Homo sapiens: one gene and its partner. The protein of the gene in region 2 purifies or fractionates together with the protein of the main gene of each other region. This does not show direct contact. Each region holds a gene or a part of one and is shown on either strand. Other genes may lie near its edges.

Evidence for each region.
Region 1: the proteins of ANKRD22 (region 2) and USO1 purify together in Homo sapiens (co-immunoprecipitation; 2 studies listed by BioGRID and IntAct, with this or other methods). This does not show direct contact.

What each region holds. Positions count from the first base shown.
Region 1 is NC_000004.12:75,811,572-75,814,820, reverse strand, and holds the end of USO1 (general vesicular transport factor p115), read right to left. Parts: intron 2,662-3,249; coding exon 2,446-2,661; intron 1,616-2,445; coding exon 1,526-1,615; 3' UTR 535-1,525; downstream 1-534. UniProt on the Homo sapiens protein: General vesicular transport factor required for intercisternal transport in the Golgi stack; it is required for transcytotic fusion and/or subsequent binding of the vesicles to the target membrane.
Region 2 is NC_000010.11:88,848,838-88,856,175, forward strand, and holds the start of ANKRD22 (ankyrin repeat domain-containing protein 22), read right to left. Parts: upstream 3,008-7,338; 5' UTR 2,771-3,007; coding exon 2,750-2,770; intron 1-2,749.

The DNA.
Region 1 (3,249 bases), on a different chromosome or scaffold from region 2:
TGATCCATTTTTCTTTAACCGTACGTTAGCCTGAAAGGTAGTCATTAACTCATGGTTCATTATGTGGTTGTCAACTTTAGGAAGACCTCACCTATCTGAGCTGGTCTGGTGACAGTAATATAGTTCTTTCTCTGATGGCAAGTGCCACCTTAGGATGGCAGTAGTGGTGGAACATGGGCACAGTGCAGCATTCACGAGTGCTCTGTAACACACAGCTGTCTCCTTCATCAAGACAGTGACCTTCCTTCTCTTTCAAAAGTTGTGTCCTATTCCTGACCCCAGAAGGCAGATAAATACGTTATTTTCTAGCCCAGGCTATCTTGTCTTTAAGTAAACCCACTTCTTCAACAGGAAATCATTGCCAAGAACTCCAGTGCTGAATTTAAAAACGTCCAAACCCTTTTCCAACCTCTTCTACTTCTGTACTTCTAACCCCCTCCAATCTTAGGGAATCATAATCATTGGTTTTAAAGAAGATTGTTTTTAACATTCAGTTATAGTTGTGTACCCCTAATAAGAAAAGTCGCCTCATCATTTTCACTTGCCTCATCTTTTATTAAGAATAAAATACTTTTAAGATGTAAACAAAGGGAACCATGACCAAGGATTAAGTCAACGTATCTATTTTTATTATGAAACATTAAATTTTGACACATTGCCTCATTTGCTTTTTTAAAATCTATTATCTGACTTAAACCTATTCAGCAAAAATGCCAATAAATTATATTAATCATACTTTGGGTCTTTTTAAAACTAGGAACATAATATGTTTTATGATAAACAATACTACTAAATCTGAGTTGTATGAACTGTTAACTTGAAATTTGTTTTAGATGTTTAGCTTAAAACAAAAAGAAAACCAATCACATTAATACACTGTTGCAAAAGTTTCTCCGGAATGCCCTCCACATCACTGTGTGTCAGCATCCTTCGGCTTCTTCACTGAGGTATGGAATGCAGCCATATGTAGGTGTCAAGGCACTCATTCTAAGCTGTCCTATCCTGCACATCTTAGCAATCACATTAGATGGAGGGCTGATGATATGCACTAACTCCCAACCCAGGCTATCTTGCTTTTAAATAAACTAATTTCTTTAAAAGAAAATCATCAACTAAGGACTCAAATGCTGAATTTAGAAATAATAATTCCAATTCAATACACATTCAATCAAATGTGTTAGTACTTAAAAGTCACAAATTTTGCAAAGTAAACAACGAATGAACTAAGGCAAATAGCATTGTCACCACATGCCTTAAAATGGTATATTTTTGGTGTTTGAAGCTCTTTGCAAATTACATTTTGGGACAGTTCAGATGGATTTAAATAAAAGATGTGTGTTCTACATAAATTCAGTTTTAAGGTTTTCAACATGGGTGGCAACATTACAAAAATATATCAATAGTCTTAATAGTGAATGTTTTCCACCTGGTTTCTAAATCTTTATTTTCCATGGAGGTAAACCAAAGTTTAGAGTCCATCTTCAGAGTTATGATATAATCTCTATTGTTCCTAGAGATTTGAAAACTAGATATGATCTAGATCCTTGCCAGGATCTTCACTTTCATCATCCTCATCCTCTTGGTCTCCAGATTCAAGTTCATCCTCTTCTTCAACCTAGAGGAAAAAGACGTATTTAATATTGTGAAAATCTGTTCATGTCACATTCAACATTTAACAATATATACTACTGATAATTTTTTTTTTTTCTGAGATGGAGTTTTGCTCGTTACCCAGGCTGGAGTGCAATGGTGCGATCTCGGCTCACTGCAACCTCTGCCTGCCAGGTTCAAGCGATTATCCTGTCTCAGCCTCCCGAGTAGCTGGGATTACAGGTGCCTGCCACCAAGCGCCCTGCTAATTTTTGTATTTTTAGTAGAGATGGGGTTTCACCATGTTGGCCAGGCTGGTCTCGAACCCCTGACCTCAGGTAATCTGCCCACCTCAGCCCCCCAAAGTGCTAGGATTACAGGTGTGAGCACTGTGCCCAGACAAATTTTGTATTCTAGTAACTACAGTAGAATATAAGCCATCTGATTTCTTTGATTTGATGCCAAGGCTCTCTGTCATTTCTAATATGAATGAGATATATCAGTTAACTTTGCTGATAAATGGCTACACCTCTTTACACACAAATCTGAAACAAACATGGCAAAAGATAATGACATGCTTGGGTGACTACAGTCTTGTTACCAATCAAATCAATTCACTTTCTAGGCTTACGGTCCAAAAGAAAATAGTCTGTAAGTACTGAAAACTGAACCTAATCTGTGTATTAAGTAAATTCAATGAAAACAGTGAAAACAGTATAGATGGTACCATATTCATGAACCCACATATCCATTCCTATAATACAGGCACAACTTTTCCATGTTACATTAAAAATCTTTTAAATGCATTATACTAAAACATAATACAAATCATTTTTGGAGACATTTTAATCTTACTGGATGACCAAGATCCTTGAGTTTATTCTTCAATGACAGTATTTTCTGATCTTGATCGGCCAAGAGCACCAAGAGATCATCTTGTTCTTTTTTAGAATCTGTAATTTCCAACTCTAGTTTGTCTTTCTCAGTTTGTAAAATGGCAATGGTACTATTAGATGAATCCAGCTGCTCTTTAATGGCAGTTCTTTCCTCAGACAGAGCTTTAATTTCATTCTAGGAAAAGAAAGGTGAAAGGCAGGAATCTAAAATTAGCACTCACTTTCCTAGAGTTTTTAACAAATAGTTTCTTTCTATGACAAATCACTGTACTTGTTCAACCTAAGGAATTTAGGGGTGGAGGTTAAGGGTACAGGAGGTTTAACACACACACTAACATGAATTTATTAGACTGTTCATCAAAAATGGTTATTGCCAAAAAATAGTTTAACATCCAAAAAATAGTTTTAGTTAGCTATCCCTGAAAAAACCTTTAAGAGACTTAAAAAAAACAGTACCATTTCAGATAATCAAAGGAGTAAACAGAAACACAAAGCATTTTACAGAAGAAGTCTGATTAGTACCAGAATTTTAGAACTCAAAGCTCAAGTTAAAAAAAAATTTTTTATCCCAACTTCAAGCATACAATTAAATGAAAATAGCTTCAAATAAAAATCTATGGTTTAAAAATAAAATAATTTGGCCACAATCCAAAAAGCACAATTATACATTATTTTCCTTATTTTCCTTAATGTGACCTCATTCCTTTCTTCATGCTATTTATTCTGATGTCTCTGTCACACAATAATATGCTGACAGGATTTA
Region 2 (7,338 bases):
TCCAATAAAACTTGCTTGATCTAAATTGCTCTCCCTAGGCATTGTATATTTCAAGACAATCTTTCTGTTTTTTGAACTATATTTCCTTTTTCTGTAGTAACATCAGCTTCTCTGAAAAACATATCCATTGCCAAAGGATTAATTTTAAGTTTGTGTGTGTGCATGTGCATGTGTGTGTGTGTGTGTGTGTGGGTGTGTGTGCATCCTTTTACTTACAGCCTTATAATGAGAACTTCCCAATGTTTAAAGGAATACATCATTTAAGATATGATTTTCAAGAAACGCTTTTTGGGGCCTGTGTCTGCAACTGAAGAGACCAAAAGTCTGTAAAAGATTCTTTAAGTCTCCTAAGTATTAGTTCCTGAACTCTTTTAAGTTCTCAGCATTTTTCTTCTTTCCGATTTTTGTGCTACTTCACAATGCAACAGTTCTCTGTTGCAAGGTAGCAGTAGAATGTACCTCATTGGACCTGGATTTAGTTTACTCATTCTTTCCACTAAGGGAACAGGGCACCATCCTGGTTAGAACAGTGGCAGAACACCAGAGTGGTTAAGACCAATTCTCTTATGGAGCATGACATATCTGTTGAAATAACAAGTAGTAGAAAAATTTAGTAGTTCAGCAGTGATGTAAGAAGAATCTCTTTGAATGAGTAAACACAGGACTCATCCTAGCCACCAATCTCCAGCCAATAAGCACTTTTCAACTGTGTAACTATGAGCCAGTGACTACCTTTTCCTCAGTTTCTTCATTTGTAAAATAAGGATACTAAAAGTGACTCTTACAAGATTGCTGTATTAAATGAGTTAATACATATATAAAGTGCTTAAAATAGGGCCTAATCTATAAGAAGCCCTAAATACATGTTTGTTGCTATTGTAAATATTATGAACAAATACCTTTGATAAGGGTTTAAATGAATCAGCCTTGTTTAAAAGTCCATCTTACGCAGTTGGAGTTACTTATTCAAAATTAGGGCCTCTCACTGAGCTCTAAGCTTATCCTCTAGTGCAGATTTCAGGACCAGCTCTCTGGGATCCTCCCTCATTCTCTCCTTCTTTCTTAAAAATATATATTGCATAACTATTAGCACTGCAAAGCTCTAAGGAAAAATGATAACCCTATGTCCCCAATCTAGAGGAGCTTCCCGCACTCAAATTGGGGGAAGTTTTTTTTTTTTTTTTGAATAGATTCTTCCAGGCAACATAGGACCAGGGATCCAGCAGGCTTTTTTCTTGTCCTTAATGAGTAGCTCACAATCTTTATCCTTAGGAAACACAGAGCAAATGATATATTACAAATGAGTAGGCTATGTTTAAATATTTAAGAGATTACTATTTAATTTTAAAGAGTCTCAAACTCTTTAAAACTATAGATGAAAGGTCCTACTTCCAACTTTCTACATCAGAATACCTGAGGATGAGACTAGGCTTTTTTTTTTCCTTTTTCCAAATCACATATAATTCCCACATGCAATCTGAAAAAGCAACCAAAATGCAGAATCTTAGGTCCCACCCAGGTCTACAAACTAAGAATCTGCATTTAAACAAGACCTTCAGAAGATCTGTATAGACATTAAAAACGGGAAAGCACTGGCCTGTGGCAGTCTTTCTTTCTCAGGATGGTGGTAAACAGATCACCCCTATGTCAGAACCACCTGGGATGCTCCTTTTAAAAAGTATACTTTTGTATCCTACCATAGACTGAGTGAAACAGACTCTCTGGGTTGGAGTCCCTTGAAACTGCATTTCAAACAAACTTCTCTCCCTGACACTTGGGCAGTCTAAAGTTTGAGAGTTACCAGAGTAGCATTTAAAAGCACTATATGTTTTGTCATTTTCATGTATATGATCCCTTCATGAGGCTAAAATCACTGAGCAAGACATACCTAGAGTTATAAACCAATCAAACACTGCATTTGCACACACGGAGAGATATATACACACATGGCATTAGAAATAACTGCAAATAAACTGTCTTTAATACTAGATCAAAACTATCCAAGAAGGTTCCCCTGAGCATCTGCAATGAAATGCAGATTAACCAGTTAATTGTGTCAGAGGAGAGAGAGAGTAAATTATGTATAATGACATCATTACACCTCTTGTACTCTTGTCTAAACATTCCTTGCTTGTACTTTCTTGAAACATCATTAAAAATCCATTTGATTCTAATAAGTTACTTCCAATACAAGTAAAAGTACCTCAGTATTTATCAGATGTGAAAAGAAAATAATCAAATCATCAAAATATGTTATTATTCCTCTTCTTCATAGTGATAGTCTTTACTAATATTTACTAAAGGTGAATCTCCCTTCAAATACCAAGCTGAAAGGCATTACTCTGGTCATGTGGTTCCATAAAAGAGGCAGTCAATCTTTTGGATATTTAGAAAATCCAATTGAGTACAATTTTCTCTTTTTCTCTGAGTGTTTGTCATGAGAAAAGCACAACTCAAACTCGATTTTGTCCAAATTATCCTTGCAAACATCCAGATACTATGAAATGTGTATTATATTCATCTCAACTTAGATCTAGCTAATATTTTAGAATTACAAAATACTTTGTCTTAAACTATTAAGAATATCAACAAGAATAACACATAGGACTTTATTTTTTCTGACTTAATGCTCCCCCAGGGAGTTGAACAGACAAAACAGAAATATATTAACAGGGATAGAAAATTGCATCTGAAAAGCATGAGTAACTTTTAACATCTTTGGAACTCTGCTTTCAGAAAGGTGATGTACCTCAGAGTATAGGATTCCCATGCTGGTCCTTCACAGGCTTACTTCACCTCTACAGCTCCTTGAATCTTCTGGAGGTATTTCTGATGAATATCAAAATCCTTCCTGGCTGAGAGGAAAGTCCCTAGAAGTCCAAGCTGGTGGCAAGCTCCAGGAGTGCTTTTCTAGCAAACACCTGTCAGTGCTTTTCCAGCAGCTCAGGCAGCAGCACACCTTCCAGAGAGCCCAGCCCAATGAAACAAAGGCACTGGTGTCATGTGTAACGACCCAAGCCTGTATCATCTAATGTTACAACCCTGAGGAGCCGGTTTCTGAGTCATATTTGCTCTGCCAGTGGTAACATGCAGGAAAGAAGGAAGCAAAGTTAAGGGAGGAAGAAAAGTTCTTACATTGGCAGGAAGGACTCACGGTTCAAACCAAGATACTGTATTTCAGACATTTCGTAATCAAAATCTGGTTTTCAGTGGCCATTGAGAAAGGCTAGAGACCAACAAACTTACTTGTGAGAGCCACACGTGTCTGGCAAAGAACTTGAAAAATAATCTTCAAAATTCTCAGCCTAACAAGTAACGCTTTTCCAGCTATTTATGCAGTTTTGTAAACTAATAAATTTACTAACATAATAAATCTTAAGTTGTTTTAAATATTCCAATACTATTCACACATTTAGCCAAATTACTTTATAATATTCAATTTAAAAATCATAAGTCTAAAATCAAATACTCTGTTATGCATTTTAAATTGCATCATCAATTTATTTATCAAACATGCTAGTATGCCCAATCTCTTAAATATTGTAAACATTTTATATGCTATATATGATATCATTCACACATTTTCCTTGAACTGAATACAATCACATCAAACTTTCCCAGAATTGAAACACTCGACCGTCCACACACCCATTATAACCATGGGACCAGCCCAAATGGGCCGTACTTTGTTGATAACAAATGTCAATTTACTCTGTAGATATAACAGAGCCAAAAACTGTAAGTCATTTAGCCCAGGCATGCACAATAAAAATGTTTTTGCCTCTAACAGAACCTAGAACAAATGATCCCTCCCCTGGGAACCAAGAAGACAAGGACATGACGGGAACCTAAATGCAGGACCTCTTTCAGAAGCTAGGGGCTCATTGGCCCAAAAGATCCAGGGCTGAAATCTGCCTCAACATACCTTACCTTTAGTGGTCAAATTTGAAGCCCTTCAATCAGTCCCTGCCAAACCAACATTCCTAAATCCTTTCCCTCACCCTCTAAGCCATACATTTTCTCAGATTCCAAACTGGGGAGGCAGATTTGAGCCCACCTCCTGTCTCCTTGCTGACCTGTCTTGCAATAAAGTTTTTCTTTCCTCAAAACCCAGTGTCCAGATATTGGCTTCTGTGAGCAGGGGGCAGCAAGCCTATTTGCTCAATAATATCATGGAAGAAATAGTTCAACCATCTCAAACCAATTGATGTGATTTTCCCAATCAGTTGAGGCTCCTTAGTGGCCAGAAACTAGTGACCAGGATACTAGGCCTGTGCTTATAAATATTCAGGGAAATTCTTCTTACTCCACTGGTGGATATACTGAGCTATTTTTATAATTATTTCAAAGATTTTATGTTTCACTATGCAGTTGACATCGAGGCCAGCCTCTCTGGAGTTTAAGAATTAGCTAATTCTTCCGTTGGAGGAGAGGGAAGTCTGCAATACCCACTAAAATTGCAGCTGACTTCCTCTTTGGCTTGGTTTGATTTTGTATTTCTGTAGACTCTTAAGACATTTAAGTGTCTTCCCATTGACTTAGAAAAACATTAATGGTATATCCATTGGGTACTTCACTCTGTTATGCAATATTTTGTAACCTCTGGTAGCCTCTTTTGTAACCTCTTTCAACTAATTTGTGTGGACAGAACTCTTCACTGTCATTGCTTCTCTCCTAAGGTTGCTGCTAGCTTTCTTCTTCAAGCTCTTTCCTCCCTGACTGAGCTCTAAATGTTTCTTTAACTTTCAATCAGGATCAAAACTCATTTTATTAGATTCTGCATCTCTTGACAACATCTGGTTCTAAAGGAACAGTACTCATTATAATTGCAAATGATGTAGGGTTAGCTCAAAAAACAAACCAATGAAAAAAGCAGTTGACTCATTGTTATTTGTAAAACACTTGGATTTAACTCTAGGCCATTGGGTCTCAACCAGGGGTTATCTCGCCCCCAGATAGACTGCAGATTTAGCAACGAAAAAGATAAGATGTTCAGTTAAATTTGAATTTCAGATAAATTTCTGAAATGTCATATGGGACATACATACACTAAAAAATTATGTTGCTTAATGGAGAACGTCGTTTTATTGGAAACTAAAGACATTTGGCAATGTCTGGAGACATTTTTGGTGGTCACAACTAGGAGTGGGAGCATGGTACTCTAATGTGGGGAGCAGAGGCCAGGGAAGCTGCTAATCATCCTACAGTGCACAGGACAGCCTCTCAGAGCAAAGAATTACCCAGCTCAGAAGAGTGCTAATGTAGAGAAACTCTAGTCTAAGCCAAAAGGAGAATTAAAGGTGAAGGAAGAGGACTTCGTAAACTATAGTGTCAAATTGGAATACGGAGGCATATTGTCAGAATGAAGTTGGATAAACAGATATATTTTTAAGTGTTTAGGGTTCTTCCTCTGGCAATTTTGAGCCTATAATTACAAAGACAGGTAAAGAAAAGAAGTTCCAGAAAACAGCTTTCACAGGTAAATGTCTTCTGTCAAGAAATAACACTGTCAAGAAGACAAATGTCTTCTGTCAAGAAATAAACCTAGTGTTTAATCTGAATTAAACACTAGGGACTTAAAATTAGTGGCATCCTTTGATCCTGGCTGTAAATGCAGCCAACCTCCACTGACCAGCAGCCAACTGTCTGTGAGAGATGAGTCTCTTGTAAGGTGTATCCCAAAGACTTCCCCCCAAGAGGGGTTCAGTAGAGCATAACAAAGAAGTATAGTCCACAGAAACTCAGTTTTACGCTGATATCTTAATCCTTCAACATTATCTAACATTGTCCAACATTGACATTAGCAGTGGAAGTTATCTGAGTCACACGGCACCAAAATATGTCACCAGCCAGCAGTGAATCTGTGTGGGTTTGCAGCAAACTCAATTCTTGCCTTCTCAGAAGAAAGAATTCAACTGGGGGCCATAGGATGGAAGAAGAGACCAAGGCAAGTTTTAGAGCAGGAGCGACAGTTTATTAAAAAGCTTTAGAGCAGGAATAAACAAAGTAAAGTACATTTGGAAGAGGACCAAGTGGGCAACTTGAAAGACAAGTGTGCAGTTTGACTTTTGACTCGGGGTTTTTATACGTTGGCATACTTCCAGGGTCCTGCATTCCTTCTCCCCTGATTCTGCCCTTTGGTGGGCTGTCCACATGTGCAGTGGCCCACCAGGATTTGGGAGGGGAGCATGCACAGTGTGTTTACTGGAGTTGTATGCATGCTTACTTGAAGCACTCTTCTCTTACCAGCTGAATGTCCCTAGAAGGTAATATACCAGTTAAACTCTGCCATTCTGCCTCTTAATGTGCATGCTTGAACCCACTCGCCCAACTCCTGAGATCTTATCAGGAAGCTGCTGATCACCAGTTTCAAGTTTTTTCTGTCTATTGGGAGACTGCCTTTCCCTGGCACTGGCTGTGACCAATTGTTATTTTATATATATATATATATATATATATATATATATAATTTTTTTTTTTTTGAGATGGAGTCTTGCTCTGTTGCCCAGGCTGGAGTGCAGTGGTACAATCACAGCTCATTACAACCTCCACCTCCCAGGTTCAAGCGATTCTCCTGCCTCAGCTTCCAGAGTCGCTGGGATTACAGACACCTGCCACCTGTATTTTTGTATTTTTAGTAGAGACGGGGTTTCACCATGTTGGCCAGGCTGGTCTCAAACTCCTGACCTGAGGTGATCTGCCCACCTCGACCTCCTAAAGTGCTGGAATTGCAAGCATGAGCCACCACGCCTGGCCCTCAACTATTATTTTAGAGAGACGGTTAACAACCTCCTTACTATCACCTGATGTTCACCTGACATTCCTGGTGGGTGGGGGGAGCCCTCTCCTACTCTGCTCATGTCTGACTAGCTACTTACTGTAAAATTGGCTCCCATTGGAGAGATTTGAGTAGAGGAGTGTTGTAATCAGAATTTTATTTATATAATAAAGCTCACTCTGGCTGTTGTACAGAGAGTGGATCTGAGGCAGGAAAAAAGAAACAGCAACTAGTTAGGAGGTTATTGCATTAGGTCAGCTGCATGATAATAGTTACCTGGGGCAGAAGAGCAGCAGTGTGGATAGAGAGAATAGGATAAACTCTAGAGTTTAGGAGGTAGAAATAACAGACTTTGCCAACTATGAGTTATTAAGCTATCTCCTAGCATTGAACACACTTTTCTATGTTTGGTTCTTCAATGCCTACCCTGGCATTCTGCAAGCTAGCTTTTTTTTTTTCCTACTGGTATGTGGAGACAAAATTAACTTCATCTTGGATGCTAATCCACCATGTTGACTTCTCATTAACCCCAGTCCCATAAATGCCTTCGGATTCCTACT